2 linked regions of the Homo sapiens genome follow. The protein of the gene in region 2 purifies or fractionates together with the protein of the main gene of each other region. This does not show direct contact. Each region holds a gene or a part of one and is shown on either strand. Other genes may lie near its edges. The genes, in order: SEPTIN8 and PTGES3L-AARSD1.

What was found.
Region 1: the proteins of PTGES3L-AARSD1 (region 2) and SEPTIN8 fractionate together in Homo sapiens (co-fractionation; one large-scale study listed by BioGRID). This does not show direct contact.

The regions. Positions count from the first base shown.
Region 1 is NC_000005.10:132,770,629-132,774,446, forward strand, and holds part of SEPTIN8 (septin-8), read right to left. Parts: intron 1-3,818. UniProt on the Homo sapiens protein: Filament-forming cytoskeletal GTPase. May play a role in platelet secretion. Seems to participate in the process of SNARE complex formation in synaptic vesicles.
Region 2 is NC_000017.11:42,966,910-42,970,727, forward strand, and holds part of PTGES3L-AARSD1 (PTGES3L-AARSD1 protein), read right to left. Parts: intron 3,434-3,818; coding exon 3,380-3,433; intron 2,278-3,379; coding exon of another isoform or gene 2,239-2,277; exon of another isoform or gene 1,194-2,238; intron 1-1,193. Other genes in the region: putative protein PTGES3L, read right to left, coding at 2,239-2,277, 3,380-3,433. UniProt on the Homo sapiens protein: Functions in trans to edit the amino acid moiety from incorrectly charged tRNA(Ala).

The sequences.
Region 1 (3,818 bases), on a different chromosome or scaffold from region 2:
GGTGAGCTGGACGGACCCTGCAGCCAGGCTCCATTCTCAAGTCAGGAAGCCCCATGGCAGACTGCTCTGTGGGGAGGAGCCTTCAGGCAGGACAACTTAACTTGGACCCCAGAGAGAGGTGGACCCAAAGCCTCTGGCTCATTCCACACACCCAGCTCCCTGAGGTGCTCACACAGGGGTGAGCGTTGTATATGTCTTCAAAGTCCCAGGATAGAGGGAGTTGGCAGCTCTGAGCTCTACATATGCAATGAGAAACTCCATGGGGCCATTATCCCCTCTCTAATCACTAACAAGCTTTTGGCTCCTGAGCCAGGCCCCAGGCTTCTGTGTCATCATTTCTTTGGCACATCAAAGACAACAACCAAAACAATAACTTCTCAGGCCGGCTGCGTGCCTCCATGCCCGGCCGTCCAAGACAAAGTAGAGAACAGCATTTTGTTACGCAGCCCAGTGGATAACTAGGACGCCCTTTTCCTGATAGGAAATGCTCTGTCTGAGCCTCCTAGAGCAGCCCTCATCACCAGCCAAGAGGAGCTGTCCCTTTTACCATGAAACAAGGTGGGATCTGGGAAGAAACTGCATCTCATGGTTGCCAACACACAAAAACAGGTTTTTATCCAGAAGGAACTGGAAATCTACTGAATCTCTAAACCAACAGAGCCGGGGAAGCTGTGGGTAAATAAAGACCCCTGTGATCCAAACCCCCAAACTAGGCTGGTTGTTGCAGTGGGAGTAGAAAGGATACCCCACCATAGGTGGATTGGCTACCGAGTAATGGACAAAGAGCAGCCCCCAGACCTCAGGCCTTCCAGAGTTCTCCAGTGCCTTGGACTTTGGATGCTTTTCTTCCTCTGGGCTCCCATGCCTAGCACCCACTCACCTGTACACCCAGTCAGGCAGACAGGAAGCCCACTCCCCAGGGGAGCTCCAGCCCTGGGGGTGGCCCTATTAAGTAACTGAGCAATGGACTCAGGAGTCAATGGACCACTGGAAGCTTTCTCCACCCATGTTCCTGGCACAAACTATGCTAGCCCCGGCTCCAGCTCCTCCCAGGAGCCTGGGCCTTAAATAGCCAGAGCAGAGGCCTCTAGCCAGAACCCGTGGTCGCGGTCATAAGCACAACTGTCCTTGAGCCTGAGAGGAATCCTAGGAATTTTCCCAGGAAAGGCTTCGGCTCTGGTCCCAGGATTCCACAGCAAGCCTCTAAGCCCAGGTCAGAGGTTACGGGAAATAACCAAGGAGACATACGTGGGAGGGTGGGGGTGGGATGCTGCTACCCGGGGCCAGGAAGGAAGAATAGAGGCAGGATATACCTGTCCCAAATCAAGAGGACACCTGGGAGCCAAAGCATCTTTCTCCTACAGTGGCAACAGAAAACTTGAGAGAAGATTCAAGCAAGGATCACCCGCCATGGTCCCAACATGACGGCAGTCAAGGTAACAGGAAGCCAATCATCCTCACAAGGCCAGTCCTACTCCACCCATCCTGGGAAGAGAAGGAATTTTGGGAGCAAAACCATCCCCTGACCCCAATACTCCATTCTCTCTGTTTCTCTGTCTCACTAAGAGGCACTGTCTTTCCTTTCTGCACACAGCCAGCCAGGCTGGAGCTTATTAATTTGGGATAGTGTGTTTCAAGCTTTTCCCATCAAAATCAGATTTCCAGGAAGCTAAGAGCACAGTTACTGGTAGCTGGGCCAGTACTCGCCACCCCAACCCCCAGGCCTAGGACAGACACATTCTTGGCCTTTATTGTGCTGCCTGAGAGGGAGTGGTCTATCCCACCACAGAGGAGATGGGGAAGGTGCTCTGGGCTGCAGAATGTACTAGAACTCCAGGCATTCATATTTTCTTACTTAGCTCAGGGACTCCAGTGGCAGCCACCACTGCCTTGTAACAGGGAAAGCCACGAGTGGTCTGGGTATCACTGGCAGGAGAAGGCAGCCTCTGTTTCACAGCAAATGAAACCCTTGGAGGGAGAATGTGGGCAGCAAAGGTGCCCCGCCTTCTGTCCAACCCCACGATGGATGCCAGTGCTGGAAAGGGACGGAGGAATGCATGGGCACCAATACGGGTTGGCAGAGGTATGGGGGTGGCACTGCTATACTTCTCTGCTGCTTGTCCATTCACTCCAACACCAGGCAGAATGTCAGGTTTGTACCCAGGCCCAAGAGCCATGTCTGGCAAGTGGGCTTGGGTCCATACCCACAGCCCCTCCTGAACCCCAAGCATCAGGCAGCCCAAGCCCTGGAGCCCCCTCAGAAAACAGCCAGCCACCTGCCAGCAGACATGGGCCCCTGTACCTTCCTCTGCTGGTTCTGTCCCTCTAATCTGACCTCTAGGATAGGGAACACCTGAAAGCCGTGTATCCTGAGGAGAATATCTAATTTGCCCCAAGAACATGTAGGGCAACTGCACGCAGAGCCAAGATGCCCCCTGCCCCGTCCTCCGCTGCCTCTTCCCAGCCAGTTCTTTCAGGAGCTCTGAAGGTTCAGATGGCTCCAAAAGAAGCCAACAGAGTGCCCCAGCTCTACCACAAGGGCATGGAGACCTTGGGAGGGCGTCTCCTCCCCAGGCAGATGTGTCTCCCTCCTGCATGCATAGCTCTGCATCTGGTTATCTGGCAAAGCTTTTGCCTTGGGGGCCATGCCTGGGGATCCTGAAACCCAAGCTGGCAGCACAGAGGCAGGAAGGCTGGGGAGGCTGCAAGGGACACACAGAGGCCAGCTGGCCCTCAGGCCCTTTGCTCTACCATCCTGCAGCTGCTCGCCTCTGGTAGCTGGACTTGAGCCACAGAGACATTCGTGGTAGTTACTGCCCCAAATATAATATATGCTTCCACCTAGCCCATCCGAGGGCTCAAAACGCCAAGGTATCCACCCTCTCTGTCATCTCTGGTATTGGAATTTGGATCTTGTTCCCCCTACCTTTGCTAGCCAATGACCAAAGTCTGCATCCTCACCCAACCTTGGGCTGTTGGCATCAACAAGATAATGCGCTCAAAGCACCCACTGCCCTCCTTGCCATCCAAGGTTTTTGACACAAGTCAGACCCTGGGTTCCCAGGCTCCATCCAGTCTCCCTCCTCCTTGGCCCTGAGCTTGGTCTCCTCCTTGCCATCCTCTCTGTTCCTATCATGGTCAGTCTTTTAGCATGTGCTCCCTGGAATGACCAATGCTTTCCATCAGCCCCGCAGCTCTGACCCACTGCAATCAAGACCCCAAGGAGACCTTCCTAAGGTGGGCACACATAGCATGGTCTGATGCCCAAGAGAGAGGGAGGGCAGGCAGACTCACCTCCTGGGGGAGAGGGCAGAGCTGCAGCTCTGCAGGTGGTGCTCACATGTGCCCTGGGAGCTGCACGGGCATCTCTTGCTCAGCTCCCGTTTTTCTTCGGCATGGCTCAGCAAGGAGGCTACTGGCCGTTTTTACAAGATGGGGAGATATCACTCTGACAGAGACCTTGAGCCTCATTTGGGTGCGGGCTCTCAATTCCTGCTTCAGGAGGGACTAGGTACTCCCTGAAGAGCCCGCTTCTTGGGGAAGTATCAAGATTGCAGGGGTGACAACGGAAGTGACAGATGGTGCTGGGGATAAAGCAGAGATGGGGGTAAGTGACTGGCTGGGAAGAACGCCAGTGTGAGGCTGTGTGCTGCACGTTTCTTCCTCTCCCCCTCAGCTTCACTTTCCCCAAGCCCTAAAGGGTTGCTCACCACGGGGTCTGAACCTGTGAGATTCTGGCAGGAGAAAACACCGGAGCTGGCCCTCGGGGAAGAAAGGGCTGAGCCCCAGAGTCAAGGTTCCAGTTAGGAGGAGGGGCA
Region 2 (3,818 bases):
CCTTAGAACTACATAGTATAAAATAAATTATAGGTATTATAGTATTTATAATGCAGTATGGGGCCAGGGATGGTGGCTCAGGCCTGTAATCCCAGCACTTTGGGAGGCCGAGGAAGGAGGCTTAAGGCCAGGAGTTTGAGAGCAGCCTGGGCAACAAGCAAATCTTTACAAAAAAATAGTTTGTCCTAAAGACAAGGTCTTTACATATATATAAAATATATATTATATAATATATAATATAATATATAAAATATATATTATATAATATATAATATAATATATAAAATATATATTATATAATATATAATATAATATATAAAATATATATTATATAATATATAATATAATATATAAAATATATATTATATAATATATAATATAATATATAAAATATATATTATATAATATATAATATAATATATAAAATATATATTATATAATATATAATATAATATATAAAATATATATTATATAATATATAATATAATATATAATATATAAATATATATGTATTTATATATGTAGATATATAATATATAAAATATATATAATATGTATCATATATAATTTATATATTATATATTTTAAATATATAATTTATATATAATATATAAAATTAATATATATAATATATATTTTATATATAAAATTAATATATAATATATATATATTTTATAGAGCGAGACGGAGTTTCGCTCTTGTTGCCCTGGCTGGAGTGCAATGGTGTGATCTCGGCTCACAGCAACCTCCACCTCCTGGATTCAAGCCATTCTCCTGCCTCAGCCTCTGAAGCAGCTGGGATTACAGGCATGAGCCACCACGCCTGACTAATTTTGTATTTTTAGTGGAGACAGGGTTTCTCCATGTTGGTCAGGCTGGTCTCGAACTCCTGACCTCAGGTGATCCACCCACCTCAGCCTCCCAAAGTGTTGGGATTACAAGCATAAGCCACCGCACCTAGCCTACAAAAATATTTTTTAACTTAGTCAGCTGTAGTGTAGTCCTAGCTACCCAGGAGGCTGAGGCAGGAGGATTACTTGAGCCCAGGAAGTCAGGGCTCCATGAATAATGAATGTACCACTGTATTCCAGCCTGGGCAACAAAGCAAGACTCTATCTCAAACATAAATAAATAAATAAAGTTTACTTTTAAAGTAAATCCTAATAGTTTACCATGAGTTCAAGAGCAAAGTCTATAGGCAATGCATTTATTTTGTTTAAGTTACAGTCAACTGTACATATTAGGCACTCAAAAAAGTTTATGGACAAATAGAATAGCTGTTGGACAAATAAACATAGACATTAACTAGAGTAACAATCAGTTTTAAAAGTATAAAGAGGGCCGGGTGTGGTGGCTCATACATGTAATCCTAGCACTTTGGGAGGCTGAGGTGGGTGGATTACTTGAGGTCAGGAGTTCGAGACCAGCCTGGCCAACATGGTGAAACCCCATCTCTGCTAAAAATACAAAAATTAGCTGGGCCTGGTGGTGCACATCTGTAGTCCCATCTACTTGGGAGGCTGAGGCAGGAGAATTGCTTGAACCCAGAAGGTGGAGGTTGCAGTGAACAGAGACTGCACCACTGCACTCCAGCCTGGGCGACAGAGCAAGACTCCATCTCGGAAAAAAAAAAAAAAAGTATAAAGAGATTTCTAGAGTGTGCAGGAAGCTGAAGTGGCTGGTTCTAGAGATGACAGAATTAGCTGTAAGAAATCAGAGCACAAATCTGGGCAAGAGGAAGCACCCCAGCTTGGTTACTAGAGGGAGAAGAGGCTTGCCACCAGGAGGAATAAGTACAAGAAGGAAACAGACAGAGAACAGTTCCTAGAGATTTATTATAATCTGTTTCTTCTTTGGCTTTTTGCTTTGCCCCATATGCACACATAGTAGAGATTTCTATAATCTGCATTCTTCTTTGGCTTTTGTTTTGCCACATACACACACATACTCAAATAATCAAGTGGCCTAAACACAGAGATTAGAAACCAATCAGTAAGAAATCAGAAGCCCTACCAGTCTACCCCTCCCCGACCCTGCATCTGATGTGGAGCCATAGTCAAGTGCCTAGGAGGAAGACAAGCTTGAAGGACGACCCTTAATAAAGAGCTTCTAGGAAAGTTCAGAGATCTCAGAAGAACTTGGTGCACAGCCAAAGCGCTGACAAAGGCCTAGGCGCTAGCTTTCTAGAACAACTGGAAAATAGCCACAGCTGCCTTCCCAGCTTTGCGTCACAGAAAGTTAATTACTTGTTGCATCATCAGCACTGTCAGAATCATCCTGGGGGCGGGGGGGAAAAAAGACAAAGCACCTGTAGACCCTGCAAAGCAGGAACATTTGTGTTAACAAATACTGCTTCCTCTCTCCTGTTCTCCAAGTTTCTTTTTGTGATTTCCTAAACCACCCAACTTAGGGGGCTAATATGAAAGGTTTTAACTTACTTTGGATGTTAAGTAAACCAACACTACTTTGTCATACATCATTAGTTTCAGGACTTTTTTTTTTTTTTTTTTTTTTTTTGAGACAGGGTCTTGCTTCATCACCCAGCTGCAGTGCAGTGGCATGATCTCAGCTCAGTGCAACCTCTGCCTCACAGTCTCAAGCGATCCTCCCACCTCAGCCACTTGAGTAGCTGGGATTATAGGCTACTGTGCCTGGCTAATTTTTGTACTTTTGGTAGAGACAGGGTTTTGCCCTGTTGCCCAGGCTGGTCTCAAACTGCTGAGCACAAGTGATCCACCTGCCTTGGCCTCTCAAAGTGCTGGGATTACAGGCGTGAGCCACCACACCCACCCTAGTTTCAGAATTTTAATTAATGCTATTGCTCCTTACAGCTGGGGTAGGTCTTCTCTAGGATGGAGAAACAGAGGGGTAGATGGAAAGCAGGAGGGTCTTGCTAGGGTTTTCTAAAGCCTGGAGAAGAATATTAGCCTTCTTGGGCCAGGCGTGGTGGCTCACGCCTGTAATCCCAATACTTTGGGAGGCCGAGGCGGGTGGATCACCTCAGGCCAGGAGTTCGAGACCAGCCTGGCTAACATGGCAAAACCCTGTCTCTACTAAAAATACAAAAATTAGCTGGGCGTGGTGGCAGGCACCTATATTCCCAGCTACTCAGGAGTCTGAGGCAGGAGAATCTCTTGAACCCAGGAGGCAGAGGTTGCAGTGAGCCAAGATCGGGCCACTGCACTCCAACCTGGGCGAAAGAGTGAAACTCCTCCCCCACCCCCCAAAAAAAGAATATTAGCCCTCTTGGGTCAAACTCAAATTTGGTTAACAGGCACTGAGAACTACTGTGTGCTAGGAACTGGGATAGGAGCTCTCTAGTGGGTTGTTTTTAAGGGCTACAAAGAAACTGAAGGGTTGAGGGGAAGGCTTTACTTACATCCAAATCATCCATGGCAGGTGGAGGTCTCTTGGTGCTGACCTTCTTCAAAAGCTAGTGGGAAGAAAAAATAATCACAAGGGAGAAGGGAGTGAAGGAAGAACAATCTGCACATTGATGGTCCATAGAAGAATGGTTGCAGCCAGAACTGGTCAGGCAACTGCTCCCATCTTTAAAACATCACTGGAATTAATTTGAGAAAAGTAAATTGATCCCCTTCTTAAAAGAAAATTTAACACAAATCCAGATTGGAGTCGGCTAGTGTTTTTATAACTGAAACCAAATAATATAACGACAGTGTGTGATTTACTGGGGGCCAATTATTTATGATGTGAGTTTTTATACTGCTAGTTTTAACATCCCATGAAGTTGTCTGGCTTAACACGCGCACACACACACACACACACACACACACACACACACACACACAGAGGCCGGG